Regions from separate parts of the Homo sapiens genome. Here region 1 is linked to region 2. Evidence: fine-mapped expression QTL. Tissue or cell type: monocytes after Pam3CSK4. Region 2 holds a variant in brackets; the other region holds the start of a gene. All regions are shown on one strand. Distances are between the middles of the regions.

The links. PIP is the estimated chance that this variant, and not a neighbour inherited with it, causes the effect.
Region 1: BTBD1 starts here. The variant in region 2 is fine-mapped to the expression of BTBD1 in monocytes after Pam3CSK4 (Quach 2016, PIP 0.95).

Annotation. Positions count from the first base shown.
Region 1 is chr15:83,061,462-83,070,782 of GRCh38, forward strand. BTBD1 (BTB domain containing 1) reads right to left here and starts at 5,791. Exons shown (of 8, transcript NM_025238.4): 1 at 5,290-5,791. The coding sequence starts at 5,690. MIR4515 (microRNA 4515) reads left to right here and starts at 5,874; the gene lies at 5,874-5,954. It overlaps LOC124903542 (a long non-coding RNA gene), which reads left to right. Exons shown (of 2, transcript XR_007064742.1): 2 at 26-384. RefSeq lists silencers at 5,109-5,278, 5,519-5,998, 7,875-7,924 and enhancers at 6,059-6,178, 6,189-6,238, 7,676-7,970.
Region 2 is chr15:83,041,012-83,051,743 of GRCh38, forward strand. It overlaps BTBD1 (BTB domain containing 1), which reads right to left. Exons shown (of 8, transcript NM_025238.4): 3 at 9,062-9,167; 4 at 717-914. All of the region lies in intron 1 of LOC124903542 (a long non-coding RNA gene), which reads left to right. It also overlaps the pseudogene FABP5P8. Among named protein-coding and RNA genes, the nearest start is that of BTBD1, 21 kb to the right of the region's middle. The variant A/C (reference allele first, on the strand shown) is at 4,511.

The DNA of each region.
Region 1 (9,321 bases), 20 kb after region 2:
TTCTTGTGTTCATGTCCTTACATAGATCTGTCCCATGATGAATCTGGGTTGTCCCTGTGTGAGCCCCTTGAACCAACAGATTGTGGCAGAGTGACATTGCACCAGTCTGAGACCTACACCTTAAGGATGCCTGGCAGCTCCTGCTTTTGTGTTCCTCGGAGTCATGAGCCACGAAGTCAAGCTACCCTGCTGGAGAGACCAGCTGAAGAAGCCTCTTGAAGAGGACCTGAGACTTAAGGCTCAGCCATCCCAGACTGTGAGTTAAACCTCCAGATGAGTCCAACCCCACCTGCTATCTGACTACAGCTACATAGACGACAAACCACCTAAGTGATTCCAGTCAACCCACACAACTGTAAAAGATAATAAAAGTTGTTTAAGTCACTACGCATTCCAGTGATTTGTTCCACAGCAACAGATAACCAAAACATGCTGTGAGAGATTAATTAGATGAGCCAGTGTGCAATTTTGCCTGTGGGTGGAATTTTTACAGAGGAAGTAAAGCCTGAAGATTATCTGAAGAGTAGTAATTAAGTGTGGAGCCCTGGCAGAAAGACTGAGGAGTACAAAGGTAAGGAGGCCTTAGAAGCAGGCACTAAAACAAGAAAAAGGCCATTAGTAATTAGGGTTGAAACACTGAGTGGATGGAGAGGAGATGAAGAAAGAGAGATCAAATCACAAAGGTTTCATGTACCTGCTAAAGTGTTTAAACATCCTGTAGGTAAAAAGAAGTCATTAAAAGATTCAGGGGAATTATATGACCATATACCAATATTGGAGAGATCACTGTTAACAGGATGAATGGAGAGAGTTAAGTCTAAACGCAGTAGTTTGGTTGAAGCAATGCAGAAAAAAATGGAGAGGCAGGTAAAATTTTCAGGAATGGTCTAAAATGGACAAGAAATGTGTAGAATGGAGTGAAACGAAACTACAATTTGGAGCTAGGCCCATGAAGTCATTTCCTAGCTGACCTACAGAATCATAAGCAAGAATAAATTATTGCTTTTTGGGGGTTGCTTTATTTATAGCATTAATATGGCAAAAGCTATTGCAGGGGGATAAGAAGTATGCCTGTCTCAAAGGATTTTCCTGAAATTTAAGTGAGATCACAAAGGGGCTTAGGAACAATCTATGGCACACAGTAAAAGTACTCATTAAATGTCAGATATTTTCATTAATAACATGTCCATCTGCATGGGTATAAAACATTACTTCACGATGGTCCAGTTGGAAATGAGGGTCTGGAGCTAAGTAGAGCTTTGGAGACACATGTGGGGGAATGAGTGCGTAAAGCTCTCACTTTGGTTGATGGGAGAAAGGATGAGAGCTGAGGACTGAATACTGAAGAACACTTACCTCGTGCCCCTTCCAGCCATCACGTCATTCTCTGTTCCCCTTTGCAACAAAACTCCTGAGAGGACTGTTTATACTGTCTCCAGCTCCTCACTTCCCATTTTCTGCCTAACCTACTCTAATCAGCTGAAATCACTCTTGGCAGGGTTATCGATAGCTTCCACCTTGTCAAGATTAAAAATCAACTCAAAGTCTTCATTATACCTGACTCTCAATAGCATTGAGCATAACTGACCACTTTCCACTTTCCATAGTTGACATTTCCCACTTCTTCTTTCTTGAAATGTTTTGACTTGACTTTCAGAATATAATGCTCCTTCTTTCTCTTCTAATTCCACTGACAGCTGCTTCTCAGTTTCATTTTATGCTTTTTCTCTGCTACATCTCTACATATTTGAAGATTCCAGAGCTCATCCTTGTACCTCTCTTCACAGTCTACATGCCTTCCTAGGTAATCTCACTTGATCTCTCGATTTAAATACCATTCACTCTTAACTTGCAAATTTATGTTCAGCAAGCTGTTCCCTCACCTCCAAATTCATATTTCTGTCTACTCTATGACACTACTTGGATGTCTTGGAAGTCCTCTTGGTTGTACCTTCAAAAATATATCCAGAATTTGACCATGTCTCATCATGTCCTTTGCTACCTCCCTGGTACAAGGTACAATTCACCATCGCCTCTTGCCTGGACTACTGCAAAAGCCTCTTCATCTATCACCTTGCTGCCTATTTTACTCCAACCACTGCCAGAAAGAGTTTGTTTTTTTAAAATGTAAATCAGATCACAACCTCCTGCCACCACCTCCGCCTCCCCAATCTCATTCAAAACTCTCCAAAGGCTTTCCATCAAATACCAGCTGAAAAAGTCTTCGCTCAGTCTCTAAAGCCCTGCACCATCCTGTCTGGCCTATCTTTTTGACCTCATTTTCTACCACTTCCCTCTACTGTGCTTAAGGCACACTGGTTCACTCTTGTGTTCCTCCAACAGGAGATACTTAGTGCCGAAAACAATGCGTTCCCTTGCTGAGAATGTTCCTTCTCTCATAACTTGATTATTTTTCTTCAAAACATTCATCAGTACTTGACATTGTATCTTTAGTTTCCCTTTACTAGATTATGTGCTTCATGAGGGCAAGGACTTTTTCTTGTTTATTGCTGTGTCCCAAACACCTACAACAGCCATTCGCTGTTTCACAAGCGCCCCAAAAGGGAGGCATATAGTATTTGTCAAACAACTGAAGAACATCATTTAAAGGTCAGGCAGTTCAAAGTGCACAGTTTCTTTAAGGGCTTCAAACTTAAGTTCATGAGCCTGTAAGTAATGTTAACTAATTCAGGATGTTTACAAGTATGCCCAAACTAACCTGCTCTTCCAACTTAGCAAGTACTATCAGGCATCTTTTTGTCACGTATTAGCTAACAACAACATCTACGTTACACAGCCAGCCAAAATTAAATTTAGAAATCAGTCCAGATATCAATTTCAAAATAGAACAATGACCAGAACCTGAAGGATAAATACAATGCTAGGAAAATAAAACACACTGAAAATGTAAAAATGAAAAAAAAGTTTAAAAATGTAAAAAATGTTTTACAATGTGAAAAAAAAAATTGCACTGTCCTACATTTCAAACACTCTAAAATTAACTTACTTTCTATTGATGGGAAAGCACTAATTAGCAGCTTCGGTGAAAATATTAAAATATGTATTTTTCCTCTACATTCTTATCCTAGTAATCTCAATATTTTTTCAAAGTAAAAAATTGCCCCAAAATAGTTTTAGATTTGTGGTTCTTAAATTTAGTTTGTATAAGTATCACTTAGGGAGAGTGTTAAAAATGCTACCAAGGTCTCACCTCCAAATATTACGGTATATAATGAGGATGAGATCTACACATTTCATAAGCACCCCAGAAGATTATAATGCAGACGGCCCACAGATCATTTTGAAAACTACTTCTAGTCTAGAAAATCCAAATGAACTATACCCAATCCTCCTGGTGAACTTTAAACTAAAATGACCTGGATTTTAGCTTTTGAGGTCCCCCCCCTTTATAAATGTAACTGAACTAAATTACAGAAAATATCAGAAACAAAGAATAAAGAAGAAAAAAAGGTACTTTCATCTCACTACTCCAGGTGACTTTGCTTAGCATTTTGGTATGTTTCCTTTTATCCCGGTCTCTAGGTATATGTTTGTTCCATGTCTTTTCACGTTGTAACCATGGTGCAGTTTCAAGTGCTATCCGTCATATTTAGTGACTGCATTATATCTCATCAAGTGAACCTACCACTGTTTAACCATTCCCTACAGCTGACTACTTCCTCACTACTATAAATAAAGCTGTAAATATTTTTGTATGCAATTTGCAATACTTGAATGCTTCTTACGTGTGGAAAGAAAATCTATAGCACCAAACTGTTTTCCAAAAGGGTTTTTACCACCATCTTTGTCAGAAAATGCTGTTCAGATGTTACCTTTAAATTTTTTGGTGGGATTAATGGAAGGAAAAAATACCACTGTCTTTTAATTTGCACTTCCTAATTACCAGCCAGGTAAAACATTCGTTAATTAGTTGTATTTTTTCTTTCTCTAAGTTATCTATCCTGTCCTTTATCCATTCGTCAATGGAATCTTATTATTTGTTTCTAGTTGTGTGAACTTTACATTCATTTTCTTGTTCATCTTTCTGATTCAACTGTGAACCTTTGTATCTAATTCTGTCCCACTGACCTGCCTGTTTTTGCTTCAGTACTACCCAAGACTCTGCCATTTTAATAACAACACGTTCTACTCAGGCAGCTATTTAAAACCATCTTAGTATAATGAAACAGACATGGTCTTCAGTGTGAGTTAGCTGTTTGTTACCTTGGGCAAGATACTTGACTCTTCTGGGCCTCAGTCCCATTTGTGAAATTGGGGTAAACAATTCTTACGCCTCCCTAACAGGATGGCTGTGATTAAAAGCTAGTAATGCCAAACAATCACCTTTTCATTAGATGTCAATCTACTATCCTCAAATAACCAACAAGCAAATTCTAACATCAAGGGAGGGATTCATTTATAAGCAAATGTGACCTTGTGTGTAGAAACACAAAGCAGGTAAAGCCTCACTTGTCTGTTTTCGTATTTACTTTCCTGGGTCTTGACAACTAATACGTTAATGAAAAACAAAAACAAAAACAAAAAAGTGGCCAGGCGCGGTGGTTCACGCCTGTAATCCCAGCACTTTGGGAGGCCGAGGTGGACGGATCGCTTGACCCCAGGAGTCCGAGACCAGCCTGGGCAACATAGTGAAACCCTCTCTCTACCAAAAATAAAAATAAAAAAAATTAGCCGGGCGTGGTGGCGCGTGCCTGTAGTCCCAAATACTCGGGAGGCTGAGGTCGGAGCATCACCTGAGCCCGGAGAGGTCGAGGCTGCAGTGAGCCATGATCGCGCTACAGCATTCCAGCCTGGGCAACAGAGCAAGACCTTGTCTCAAAAAAAGCGGGGGGAAGGGGGTGACAATAACCCCAAAACATCAGTCCTGCAAGATTTTTCAACTACTCTCTTCCCCCAAACAAAAACATAAAACTTCGCAAATGGGCAATCAGGACAACCTGATCTGCCCCTCTATCCTTGCCACTTGTCTAATTCTGAAGTCTGAGCGACAATCCATAATTGGAATGCGAAACGCCTTTCAATGGTAAAACGCACGCTTGCCTAATGAAGACACTAACGTTTAGTTGGCGACTGAGCCGTCCTGGTTCACAGATTTCGATTTCGACCCTCCGGAGCATCAACGGCTCGGGAGGAAACTGAGGCCCCGGGCGGGTCAGAAGAGCCCAGCCCAAGGTCATCCGGGAGTCCGGGTAGGCCGGGCCCCGGGGATCTCCCAGCCCGGCCCGGCCCGGCCCGGCCCGGCCCGGCCCGGCCCGCGCTGCCGCTCACCTCAGCAGCGCCAGGAAGGCTGCGGGCTCCACGTCCGGCAGCTCGATCTCGGCCGACGTGGTGGCCATGCCGCCGTTGAACATGGCGTCAAAGACGGCGCTGCCGGCCGCCAGCACGAAGCGGTGGGCGGGGATGCGCTGCGGGCCCCCAGCGGCGGCGGCGCCGCGACCCTTGCCCAGTACGAAGCGCACATCGCTCAGCAGCTCCGAGTTGAAGAGGAAGGCGAAGCGCTCCTTCAGCGACGCCTTGGTCGCCTGCCAGTTGTAGAGAGGTTCCCGCTGCAGGGGGAGCAGGGGCCCCAGAGAGGACGGTGAGGGCGGCGGCGGCGGCCCCGCGGGGCCCGGCTCCGCCTCAGCCCCCGACGCCTGCTCCCCAGCTGCGGCAGGCCCGAGTGAGGCCATCCTCCAGCTGCGCGGTTGCCCACGTTATGGACAAAACTCCGCCGCCATCGCCCAGGCCGCCTCCGGAGGCCGGCGCTGCCTCCCTGCCTTCCGGGAAAGGCGCTTCCGGGGGCCTCGCGCCTCCGCAGGCCCCTCCCTGACCGCGCGCGCCCCCGCACGCCCGGGTTGCCGCTGTGCGCGGCCGCGGGAGGTGTAACAGGACTGGACTCCCGGCAGCCCCAGGGCAGGGGCGTGGGGAGCTGGTCCTAGCTCAGCGCTCCCGGAGGTGGAGCTTCTGCAGGCTGGGTGCTGCCGGGCCTACGGGCACCCACCCCCTGGCTCAGTGCCCTGGGTATTCTGACTCAGTAGGTCTGGGGTAGGGCCTGAGAATTTGTAATTTTAAGATGCATCGTGGATCTGCAGGCGGCTCTCACGGCTGCCTTTTTCTTCCTGCAGGCCCCTTATCACCAAGTCCAGCGCCCCCATTGTGTATCTGGGACATGTCCCAAGGCCTGTCCCGAGGAGTGTTTTGCCTGGAAGTGGAGGGGCAGGAAAGTATGGCCAAGGGAACACGTGAGGGAGGGGATGACATGACTTCCCACAACCCTGTACCCCAAGCGTGGCCAAGTCGCCGCTCCAGAAGGCCGCGAAACCCGTGGAAATTCCGGAAGCAGAGGTGGAAGGCTTAGAACCCCAGTGACCTCTCCCCAGGTCCGCAGGTCCCTTTCCCTTCTAATTGACCCTTTGGTTCCGTCCTCTGGGCCTAAGAGACATTTCCTTCTACTGCTTCCACCCCTGTATTTGAAACCCCTCGTGCTTGCCCACCTTCTCTTGTAGCGCTTTTCAGTCCTTGCACTGAACCACTGCCTAAGCTTGAAATTTAAAAAATTAAAAACTAAAACACACACACAATGGAAAAGGCTGTATTATCCCTTCCCAGGCAGTATTTACAACCCGGTCATCATGATTGGGGGACCGAGGCCTTCCTTTTTCTCCCTTCAGTGAGGCAGGCCCTGAGTTAAGTCAGCTGTCAAAAGCAGAACGTAGAAAACCCAAGAAATAGTCCTTGACCAGGCACGTATAGTTGGAAACACCTGTTCTTTGCAGGAAGAGCCTTACAGATTACAAATGCCGTCAAGTAAATAGTAAACCCCAAACCTGGGTTTCTCCTGTAAAATCACTCCACTTGTGAAACCACCAGAGGGGACTTCCAGCTGTTAGGCATTTAGAATGGTAACTTCTTTGGGAGAGGAACGTGCTTGGGAAGAGACTTAAAGTAGTAGGGGCTGAAATAGTGGATGCACAACCCCTTCCCCATTGCCAGCCGGCAATTCCTAAAGACAAAGGGACATCATGCTACTAATGATACCATTATCACACCTAACAAAATTAACCATATCATCAAATCATCTATATATGATTTTTTTTTTTTTGAGACGGAGTCTCGCTCTGTTGCCAAAGCTGGAGTGCAATGGCATGAAGTCTGCCTTCCGGGCTCAAGCGATTCTCCTCCTCAGCCTCCCGAGTAGCTGGGGTTACAGGTGCGTGTCACCACATCCAGCTAATTATTTGTATTTTTAGTAGAGACGGGGTTTCACCATATTGGCCAGGCTCCTCTCCAAGTCCTGACCTCGTGATCTACCCGCCTCGGCCTCCCAAAGTGCTGGGATTACAGGCATGAGCCACCAGGCCTGGTCCTATGTATAATATTTAATGTACAGTTAATATTTGTTTCTCCACTTGTCTCTAAAAAAATTTTTTTTTGAGACGGAGTCTTGCTCTGTTGCCCAGGCTGGAGGGCAGTGGCATGATCTCCGCTCACTGCAAGCTCTGCCTCCCACGTTCACGCCATTCTCCTGTCTCAGCCTCCCGAGTAGCTGGGACTACAGGCACCTGCCACCAAGCCTGCTGATTTTTTTTTTTTTTTGTATTTTTAGTGTGTCCAGAGTTCGTTCCTTCTGGTGGGTTCGTGGTCTTGCTGACTTCAAGAATGGAGCTGTGGACCTTCCTGATGAGTTTTATAGCTCTTAAGATGGCAGGGACCCAAAGACTTCTTCTGAAGAGCAAAAGAACAAAGCCCTTATGTCATGGAAAGGAACCCCAACGGGTGGTTGCAGTCTCTGGGCGTGGGGGCAGGAGGGGAGGGGCCGGCGGGGGTGGGGGGGGTGGAGTCAGCTTTTACTTCCTTATTTGTCCCCGCCCATGTCCTGCTGATTGGTCCATTTTACAGAATGCTGATTGGTGCACTTTACAGAGTGCTGATTGGTCTATTTTACAGGGTGCTGATTGGTCCATTTTACGGAATGCTGATTGGTCCATTTTACAGAGTGCTGATTGGTCCACTTTACAGAGTGCTGATTGGTCCATTTTACAAACCTCTAGCTAGCCACAGAGTGCTGATTGGTGTGTTTTTACAGAGCACTGACTGGCACATTTTACAAACCACTTGTAAGACAGAAAAGTTCTTCAAGTCCTCACCCTACCCAGAAGTCCAGTTGGCTTCACCTGTCATTAGTAGAGACGGGGTTTCACCGTGTTAGCCAGGATGGTCTCAATCTACTGACCTTATGATCTGCCCACCTTGGCCTCCCAAAGTGCTGGGATTACAGGCATGAGCCACTGTGCCTGGCCAAAAATATCTTTCACAGATGACTTTTTTTCCAATCCAGGATCAAATCAATGTTCACATATTATTGACTGTGTTGACTTCTTTGAAGGTCCGGGGAATTGTGGAGTATAATGCTCCACAATCTGGATTTGTCTGGTGGATTCTGTATGATTCATGGTTAGATTCCAGGTTAAACATTTTAGGCAAGAATATGCTGGTGATGTTAAGTACTTCATTGCCTCACTTCAGAAAGCGTATGTTGGTGATGCTAAGCTTGATGACCTGGTGAGGCTGTGACTGTCAGATCCCTCCATTATGAAGGTGTATGATTCTTATGTAATAAGTAATCCATGAGGGTGATGCTCTGAGACTGTTTGACCAGTCTGTTTCCCCAAAAAGCTTTCACCTACTGATTTCAGTATCCATTGATGATTCAGAAAATTAATTCACTTACTACTTTTAAGTGTCATCCCAGGTATTCTAATGCAGGCCTTTCATAGATCACACTCTATAGTATACTATACTAGCTAGTTTAAAAGGAAAGAGATTAAAAAACATAGAATTGGACATAAGAAAGGATATATAAACATAATTGTGGAGTTTAAAAATATGAGTAATTCTATTAGTGGCTTTGAAAATATCAAAGGAATGTACTCGTCTAGAAAACCTGGACAATTCAATTATCTATACAGGACATTAAAACTTTCAAAATAATAACCTTCAGGGAAGACTGGTTCCAGATGAGCTCGTTAAACATGTTATTATTGTTTTAAAGGAAATGTTTAAAATAATACATGTTTGTTATAGAAGTAAGTAGACTTCCAGTTTCAGCCATAATGTACCAACTTGTCTAACCCTCCCACCAAAAACAACTATACAAGCTGGAGTGTGTGTGTGTGTGTGTGTGTGTGTGTGTGTGTGTAAACAACTGTTTGAAGGCATTGTTAAAGAAAAAAATTATTCTGGGCTGTTGCAGTGGCGCACGCCTGTAATCCCAGCACTTTGGAAGGACAAGGCAGGCAGATCACCTGAGGTTAGGGTTTG
Region 2 (10,732 bases):
CATGGTAGTGTGCACCTATAGTCCCTGCTATTTGGGAGGCTGAGGTGGGAGGATTGATTGAGCCTGGGAGGTGGAGGCTTCAGTGAAATGCGTTTGTGCCACGGCACTCCAGCCTGGGTAACAGAGGAAGACTCTGTCTCAAAAAAAGAAAAAAAAGAAAAAAAAAAAAAGCCAAAAAGATCTGTCATAACCTGGGGTAAGGCACTCAACCTCTCCCAACTTTACTTCTCTAACCTATACAATGTGGATAATATAATTTTGAAGGGCTTAAAATCATACACTCGCATATATGTTTGTCATGTGATTAGTACTGAATAAAAGCTTCTTTTCCTCTCTGGCGCAGGGAGACTGATAGAATTTTTTTTTTTTTTTGAGATGGAGTCTCGTGGAATCTCGCTCTGTCGCCCGGGCTGGAATGCAACGGCATGATCTCGGCTCACTGCAACCTCCGTCTCCTGGGTTCAAGCGATTCTCCTGCCTCAGCCTCCTGAGTAGCTGAGATTACAGGTGCCCACCACCATGCCTAATTTTTTGTACTTTTAGTAGAGACGGGGTTTTACCATGTTGACAAGGCTGGTGTCGAACTCCTGTCCTCAAGTGATCCACCTGCCTTGGCCTCTCGAAAGTGCTGGGATTATAGGTGTGAGCCACCAGGCCCAGCCCTGACAGACTATTAAAACAGTTTCAAATAGATTTTGGTGAATTTATACCCTTACCTGCTGCAAATTCCTCAATTGTCATCAGTGGGAACCGGATTAAGGAAAGTGCTTTTCCTAGAACTTTTTGTTTATTCCCAAAAGTCACAGGTAATTGTTGTCTCTGACATTCTGCTTCTGCCCAGCGTACAACAGCTCCAAAAAGTCGACTTTCTCGAATACTGAGTGTGTCTCTCTCTAAAACTGCACAGAGTGTATCTATAGGCAAAATACAAAATAAACCCAATTAGAAATATTTTAGCTCTCTAACCAAGCAATACCAACAGACACACTTATATTAAGTTTTCAGATCTCAACAAAAAATAGGTTAGACACTTAAAACTACAGACTTTATACTTTAAAATACTAAATAATTAAAGGACTTAAACTCCAAAGTGTTCCATAAAAATCAGTTTAACAATCAATTTATTACTTACCATACATGCAATATTAAGATACAGTACTCTCCTTATATATTTATGCCATTTATCAAGTAAACTCAACTATCCAGAATAAGATTAACAAGCCACAGAAAAAGGTTCCAATTACATAAATTCTTAAAGTCTACAGATTATAATTCATTCGTTCATTCAGTAAATATTTATTATTAAGCACTACGTGCCAGGTACTATTAGGCAATTTTATATATATATATATATATATATATATATGTATGTATATATTTTGGATATAGAGTCATAGAGTCTCATTCTGTTGCTCAGGCTGGAGTGCAGAGGCACAATCTCGGCTCAATGCAACCTCTGCCTCCTAGGTTCAAGCAATTCTCCTGCCTCAGCCTCCTGGGTAGCTTGGATTACTGGCACGGGCCACCACACCTGGCTAATTTTTATATTTTTAGTAGAGACAGGGTTTCACCATGTTGGCCAGCCTGGTCTCAAACTTCCGACCTGAAGTGATCTGCCTGCCTCGGCCTTCCAAAGTGCTGGGATTACAGGCGTGAGCCACCGCGCCCAGCCAGCACTGATATATCACTGAACAAAAAGTTAAAAATTCCTGCCCTCATGGAGCTTACATTCTAATGAGGAGAAACAGATTAAATAAACACAAGTAAATTCGAGTATCTTAGATGATATACATGGGCAAATATGTCAGGTTAAGGAGAATCAGAAATGCAGTTTAAAATAGGAAGGGGCCAGGCATGGTGACCCATGCCAGTAGTCCCAGCAATTTAAGAGGCTGAGACAGGAGCATGGCTTGAGCCCAGGAGTTTCAGGCCAGCCTGGGCAATATAGTGAGACCCCATCTCTACAAAAAAGTTTTTAAAAATTAGCCAGGCATGGTGGCATGCACTTGTAGTCTCAGCTACTCAGGAGGCTGAGACAGCAGGATCACTCGAGCCTGGGAGGTTGCAGGCTGCAGTGAGCCATGATCATGCCATTGTACTCCAGCCCAGGCAACAGAGTGAGACTGTGCCAAAAAATAATAAAATAAAATAAAATCGGGTGGTTTAGGCAGGCTTCACTTATGCCAAGACATGAAGGAAGTGGGGGAGTAAGCCAAATAGATACCTAGAGGAATAGTATTCCAGGACTAAAAGTACAAAGGCTCTCATATTAAAGTGTGCCTGGCATATCTGAGGAATGGTAAGGAGGCCAACGTGGTGGAGTGGAGTGAGCAGGAGGGAAGAGTAGCAGGCAAGGAGGCCAGAGGCTGTGGGGAGAGGGGGCAATCATGCAGCACCCTGTAGATCATTTGGCTTTTACTCTAAGTGACATGGAGAATGCCTGGAGGATTCTGAGTTGTCACATTTTATGTTCTGAAAGGATCACCCTGGCTTCTGTGTTGAGAAGAGGCTATAGTGAAGACAATATCAGTTGGAGGCTCTTGCATCGATCCAGGTCAGGGATGGTGGCCTGGACAAGGAGGGTAGCAGTGGAAGTGGTGAAAATTGATCATATTTGGAACATATTCTGAAGGAAGACTCAATTAGATTTCCTAACAGATTGGATGTGAGGTGTGATTTAAAGAGAGGAGTCAAGAATAACTGCAAGGTTTATATAGCTTATGCACTGGAGGGATGAGGGTGGCATCAACCAAGATGGGAAAGACCACAGGAGGTGCAGGTTTGGGGTGGGGAAAGAGCTGAAGTTTCATTTTAGACATACTAAGTTTGAAATTCCTATTTGACATCCAAGTATAAACGTCATGCCTGTACCTCAGGTCCTCACTCAGAACCCTTTTCCTCTTATGATAGGCAAAATTAAAATAAGCTCAGTTACTTTTAAGTTCTAACAGCCCAGAAGCAATAAGTTCAGAAGAGAAAGGGGCTTTAGAGGCTAATATACTAGAATGAAATGATAAACTGCAATCTAACAGGGATAGAGAAAAGAGGAAATTTGTGAAAAGAAGACGTTAAGCACTTGAAAAGAATAGCTATCAAGGGTCTTATAGAGTTTTTTAAAAAAACAACACTTCACAGACCTGAGGGCTTCACTGTACAATAATAATGTAACTGATACTTAGTGAGCATTAATAATCACAAGAATCCTAAATTATATCCAGTACATATTGTTTAATATAGGCAGGTAAAATAAAACATTTTAGATTTCTCAAAGGGTCAAAATAAATACCCCAGTTCGACAGCAAGCTGCCCACGCCGACGGCAACCCTGCTCTGCATGCCCGCCCGCCCGTGCCCACCATGGCCACAGTTCAGCAGCTGGGAGGAAGATGGCGCCTGGTGGACAGCAAACGCTTTGATGAATACATGAAGGAGGAGGAGTGGGAACTGCTTTGCGAAAAATGGACGCAATGGCCAAGCCAGATTGTATCATCACTTGTGATGGCAAAAACCTCACCATAAAAACCGAGAGCACTTTGAAAACACAGTTTTCTTGTACCCTGGGAGAGAAGTTTGAAGAAACCACAGCTGATGGCAGAAAAACTCAGACTGTGTGCAGCTTTGCAGATGGTGCATTGGTTCAGCATCAGGAGTGGGATGGGAAGGAAAACACAATAACAAGAAAACTGAAAGATGGGAAATTAGTGGTGTACTGTGTCATGAACAATGTCGCCTGTACTCGGATCTATGAAAAAGTAGAATAAAAATTCCATCATCACTTTGGACAGGAGTTAACTAATAGAATGATCAAGCTCAGTTCAATGAGCAAATCTCCATAGTGTTTTTTTTCATTACTGTGTTCAATTATCTTTATCACAAACGTTTCACATGCAGCTATTTCAAAGTGTCTTGGATTAATTAGGATCATCCCTTTGGTTAATAAATAAATGTGTTTGTGCTAATAAAAAAATAATAAATACCCCAGTTCCTAAAAAACGACACTTCTAGATGGATAGGAAAATCTCTAAAGAACCTAGATAAAACAGGCACTTCTATGAAATATCTAATAGTTATACTTTAAATTAAATTTAAATAAAAATGAGTATGCTATAGTTACAGCAGAAATCAATTAAAGCATTAAATATGATTACATTATCCATAAATACATATCAGATAAACATTTCTTTAAATACTATTCTACAATATGGGCAGGCACAGTGGCTCACTCTTGTAATCCCAGCACTTTGGGAGGCCGAGGAGAGTGATCACCTGAGGTCAGGAGTTCGAGACCACCCTGGCCAACAGGATGAAACCCCATCGCCACAAAAAATACAAAAGTTAGCAGGGCGTGGTGGCAGGTGCCTGTGTAATCCCAGCTACTCGGGATGCTGGGGTCAGGAGAATCGCTTGAACCCGGGAGGCGGAGGCTGCAGTGAGTCAAGATCACGCCACTGCACTCCAGCCTGGGTGACAAGAGCAAAACTCTGCCTCAAAAAAACAAACAAACAAACAAA[A/C]AAAAACTTTTCTGCAATGGTCTACACATGCTAAGAGCCAAATATTTGCTTAATATCAAACATAAGTAATATCCTAGCAAAGGTATCATAGTCCCAAGAACACAGGAGAGGCTTAATACCATGTTAAAAATAAACTGGTTACACATAATTTTTTTTAAAAATCAAACTTTAGTATCTCTTATTGTAGCTGAGCAGATGAGTATAAACTATGGCACCACGAAGCCCTTTCATAAGTAAATTAAATGCAATCAATATGACACAACCATTTGATGGAAAACCAGAAGACTTTGAACCTACATGTCTCCACTTGGTATGCTAATAACTTCCGCAGAGATAAACACATAAACTTTATTACTAAAAAAAAAAGCACATCATACTACCCTTGGTGTAAATTCATTTTGTTCTATCAACATGATAAATTATCTTCTTCCTTTAGCAAAAGGCTGTAAGAAACAGTATCTCTTCCTCCAGAACACATATTCAAATCCCGGAGGAGAAAAAACATCCTGAGAATATAAGACAGCTATAAAAAGCTCCTGAAGCCAGCCCTTTCTTTCAGCTCCCAGTCTTCTCTTGAATTACCAATTTTTGGGGCTAGGCATAATAGTTCACACCTGTAATCCCAGCACTTTGGGAGGCTGAGGCGGGCAGATGGCTTGAGCACAGGAGTTCGAGACCTACCTAGGCAACATGGCGAAACCCCGTCTCTACCAAAAAAAACAAAAATAATAATAATAACTGATAAAAAATGTTTTTTAATTAATTACCAATTTTTAACAAGTACATTTGAAACAAACTAGTCTATGGGGTAGAAAGACAAACACATAGGTCTTCTACTGGCAGATGTGTTAAAGTACGAAGTTAAAGCTGAGAACCAAATAAAGATCAGAAAAACACAGCAGATTGTTTCATAAATATTAACACAATACTGAGTTTTCAAATAAACAACTGTGAGTCAAATCAAATGACCAAATATTTATTGGCTTCTACCCTGTACAAGGCACATACTTCAAGATTCCCAGGCTCCAACGGCATGCATAATTTAAGAGCAATTTATAAGGTGTAAGTTACCCAGATGCAGGCAGTAATGCTTCAAATGAGAACACACTGAAGAACAAATGAAGCATCTGACAGCTACCCTAACAGGGAGGAAATCTTAGGATTAAGCAATGTTTCATTAACAACTTGGGCAGTGTTTAGGGCTCTCAAATATCCAGTACTCAACAGACACCACATGCAGGTGCTGGGGAGGAATCTGATTTACTCCCCGTCCTTCAGTATATTATAAGCAGTGTATTATTTGTTCCCAAGGTACTGTGCAATACATCAACTAACAACAGGATGTTAGAACAGAGGAATATAACAAGTATCATGGACGAGGGTGGGGTATCAGCTCCCAAAAAATGAGTCATATGGAAGTGTTATTTTAGCCAAGATCTTAAGACTATGTGAGAGCCAGCCAAGATGGGAAGAAAAAGCATTATTCTAGACACAGCCAGTCAGTCCAGTTAATCAACAAATATCAGCTGAACATGTACTATATTCTTCTGTCTTTGGTGCTAGTGATAGAGTTGTACACGAGACAAAGTCCCTGCCTTCAAGGAGTTTACAATTTAGGAGAGAAAAGTAAACAATCAACATATATATACAGAGACAAATACCTAGATAAGACTTTCAGAGAGCAATGTGTATTACAAGGAAAATAAATCAGAGCAAGAGTAATGGAACAGGGATTGCTTAGGGGAACACGGTATCTAATTAAGTAGGTCTGAAGTCTCAGGTCTTCTTTAATCTGAGATGCCAAGATTCAGGGGAAGAAGGATCCTAATCAGAAGGAATAGCAAATACAAAAGAATGGAATATAAATAATCCTGGCCAGCGCATATGGGAATTGAATTAGGGGGAGAATGGTAGGAGACAAAGTCAGATGTAGGTAGTGGCTTCTACCTATTTACCAAAGATGTTTTCTCTTCTTCCTGGGATGTGACTAGTCTGCATCTCCTGGCTTCTCCAAAGTTAGGTGAGATCTTGCAACTGAATGGGACCAATAAAATAACAGCCAAAATGTAGGTGCTATATCAGGGTCAATGCTTTTAATCTGTGGGTATTTTCCCCATCCACACTTTCTCCCATCTGCCAGCAAAACACAGATAATAGCTAGGCTCTAGGGCATGACAGAACAACAAGAACGAACTACCTATTGACTATAATACTCCCTTGGTCTGTTATATGAGCGTGAAATAAACTTCTGTGTTTGAGCCAGTCTGCATTTTTGGGTCTATTTCTTACCACAGCCTGACAAATACAAGGCCTGACTCCACAGGCCTTGTATTACTGTGAGCTTTTATAAGGAATTTAAATTTTATGCAAATGGATGTGGGAAGACACTGGAAGCAAGGAAGTTATATGGGCTGATTTTTTATTTATAAAGATCATTCTGGCTGCCATGTAGAGAATGGAGTGTATGGGAGCAAGACTGCATGAAAGGAGAGACTACAAGAGACCACTGCAATTATCCAGGTGAAAGAGAATGGTGGCTTAGACTAGGTGGTAGCCACGGATATGGTTAAGTAGTGGTCAGATTCAGGATACATATTCAAAGTAGAGCCATGAGCACCTGCTGATAAGACTGCATGTGGGGTATGAGAGAAAGAATAACCAAGAATAACAGGAGTTTTTAGCCCAAGCAATCAGGTTCATGGTGGTGTTGTTAAGGAAGACTGAAAACAGTTGGAAAGGAACAGAAGAGTCCTCACAGACAGCGAGAGGAATCAATGGTTCTCCTTTAGCTGTTCTGTTTCAAATGCCTATAAAATCTCCAAATGAGAATGTCAAGTAGACAGTTGGGTATATGAGTTTGTAGCCCAGAAGACGACAGGGACTGAAGATACGTATTTTGGGTTATCATCATAAAGATAGTATTTAAAGCCACGGGCCTGGATTAGATCTCTCTACTCTCCTACAAGACAAAAGGTACATTGTTAGCCTATCATTAGATGGTCCTCTATCACCTGGCTTTAACCTGCTTTGCACCTCCTTCCTCTTATACACTTCTTCCTGAGGTTCCACTTGCCGCTAATGCCCTCCCCTCTCCACTATCCAAACACAGTAAGTCCTCAACGTATGGGTTCTTGGAAACTGTGACTTCAAATGAAAGTGTCTAACGAAAGCAATTTTACCATGAGCTAACTGATAGAAACAAGAGTTAAGTTCCTATGGCATATTTCTGGTCACAAAAATACCACCAAGCTTCTAAATAAAGACTCAAAGCACTTCTAAATTGAACAGTGAAATAAATGTGAGCTATACATACATTTAAGAAAGATTAATACAGACAAGAAAGAGAATCATTTACCCAATTTTTGGTGAATCAGTGAGTGACAGTGGTCATAGTGGTGGTGGGTTAAATCCAGGAATAAACGTTTACAAAGTGAAAATTTTGAGGAGGACCTCCCACACAACGCAGTTCAAAAGCAAATAACATAGTGGACTTGCCGAGCGCTTTCATACTATGTCATTTATCATCAAACATTTGTATGATTATCATATACTTTACAAATTTTTACTTGATAAATCATTTTCCAATCCACTTATTCCAGTTCAGAGTCTCAGGTGGCCAGAGCTTATCCCAGTGGCTTGGTATAGGCAGGAACCAATCCCACACAGTACATCATTTCATCACAGGGCACACTCACACACACTCTCATTCAGACTGAGGCCATTTCGACACACCAAAGAACCTAAATGCACATCTTTGGGATGTGAGAGGAAACTAGAGTGCCTGGAGAAAACCACGAAGATACAGGAGAACATGTAAACCCTACAGATCGTGGCCCCCGCCAGGCGTCCATTTTTTTCTTATCAACATTATAATGAAACGACATTATTCAAGGACCTACTGTGCTATCCATTCTTTAAGGCTCATATCAGAACCTCCTCTGTCAAAATTTTCCTAACACTACTGCAATTTGAAGTAATCGCACCATTTTCCGGATTTGCATAGTAATTACTTTCTACATATCTAATTTAGAAAAGATAGAAATCACATTTTACCATATGTCCTCTCTTTTTTTTTAATTTTTATTTTAAGTTCAGGGGTACATGTGCAGGTTTGTCACAGAGGTAAACTTGTGTCATCGGGGTTTGCTGTACCGACTATTTCATCACCCAGGTATTAATGCCCTCTCTTCTATTAGCGTTTTAAATCTTAATTTTCAAATATTTGTTCTTTGATTCTCCAATTAGACGTTTCCTTAACAAGACAACTCATCTCTTACTATTTTTTATATTTCCTATGGACCCTAGAATAATGCCATGCATATGATGGGCATTCAATGAATATTTATTTGATTTGAAATCTTTTAACAGGCAATGAGCTAGTTAAGACTTTTAGAAATATTTTCACCAAAACAAAAAAAAGCAAAACTCTTAGAGAGACTTCAATCATTTGGGAAAGCCACTGATTTAAAAATAGCCCCTTCTCCAACAAGGCTGACAAGTAAGGCATTAACTGTACTTAAAATGTAACAATTTACTTCATAGCGAACTTACCTATATCAATATCAGTAAACCCTTCTGCACTTATTGCATCCATTGTGCTTTTGTCTATTGTATCTAGACAAAGACTAGCAAGCTGAGGTTCATCAAATAATCGAGCCTAAACATATAAAGAGATAGTTATTTAACTTTCATAGTTATTTTACCTTCAGACTGTACATATTTGAAATTAATATTGTCAACAGTTATAATTGCTAATTATGTAAAAATATCTACTTAAAATACACGCAATAATGTCTACATATTCTTAAAACTTTTCATTCTACAATCAGAAATGAAAAGCTAAAAATACAAATGCCCTGCTAAGAACAAATTGACATTACCAATACCAATCCTGTTATTTTTATGTGCTTGTGTGTGTGTGTGTGTGTGTGTGTGTGTGTGTGTACAGCCTATATTCTTATACATTACTTATTCTGATCCTTAATGAACCCTTTATGTTAGATAAGGCTTACATTATTATCCCATTTTCAGAGGTTTGGAGAGGTACAGTGACTTGCCTAAGATCATCTAGTTAAGTATGTTGCACAGCTAGTACTTAAATCTTATAGTCTTTTCACTAATTATAATATCAATTGTCAAGCACAACAGTGCAAATATCAGATTTTCTCTTCCATTGCCTGTTTTGATTTTGAGGAGAGAATAGGGTACTAGAATTTTAGAGCATGACAGCTCTGGAAACCTAAGCAAAATTAGGTCTAACAACACAAGAACAAATACATAAAATTCACATGACGGAATATTATACAACAATGAGAATGAACAATCTACAACTACACAAACCAATATAAATGAACCACACAAACCTAATGATGAGCAAAAAAGCCAGAATATATAATGAGCAAGAATATGTACTGTAGAATTCCAGAAGAACTAATTTTGGCTTTAAGATGTTAGAAGTCAAGCTTACAATATGTGCTTTATCAATACATATGTTATAACCCTCCCCCACAAAAAAAAAAAAAACAGTTTATAAGCAGGGGGAGTCCAAGTTAAACTCAAGCAAGATTTTTAAAAAGCTGAAACACTGAAAAAGGAGGTATGATGATAGGCATGCCAATGACCAACCTTTCATTCTGGCCTGGGGTTAGTTCTCTTCACATTTTAGAGGATGGGCAAACACTAAATGCCCAAAGGTATTATGTTGGCTTGGGCAGAAACTTTCTGAGAATACTGCCAATTAGTTAACCATATCATAAATGACACTAATTATTTGGCATGATGATGACTCTTCATTTAATTTTAAAGTAAAATTCATTTTAAAGTATTCAATAATTCAGATACTACTGAACAACTGATAAATATCTAAACAATTATCATGTGTTTTATGGGGGAGAAAAGAAAACATTAAACACACTGGCTTTAAATTTTTTAAATTTAAGTATATTTTAAAAATTATATATATATATATTTTAAGTTTAAAACATTTACATATAACATAAAATATGTATAGAATACTCGAATGTTTGAAAATGCACTTCCTAGATTATACACTGAGCCTGTTTACAATAATTTGCTTTGTCAAATTTTAAATAAATTTTAGCACTAAATAAAAAATTTGTATTAATAAATATTAAATCTATCTCATGCAATTTTCCCTCAAACTATTTTTCATTTGGAATTTCCTTATTTTTTTTTAACTGCACCTTTTTTGTTTAGACACAC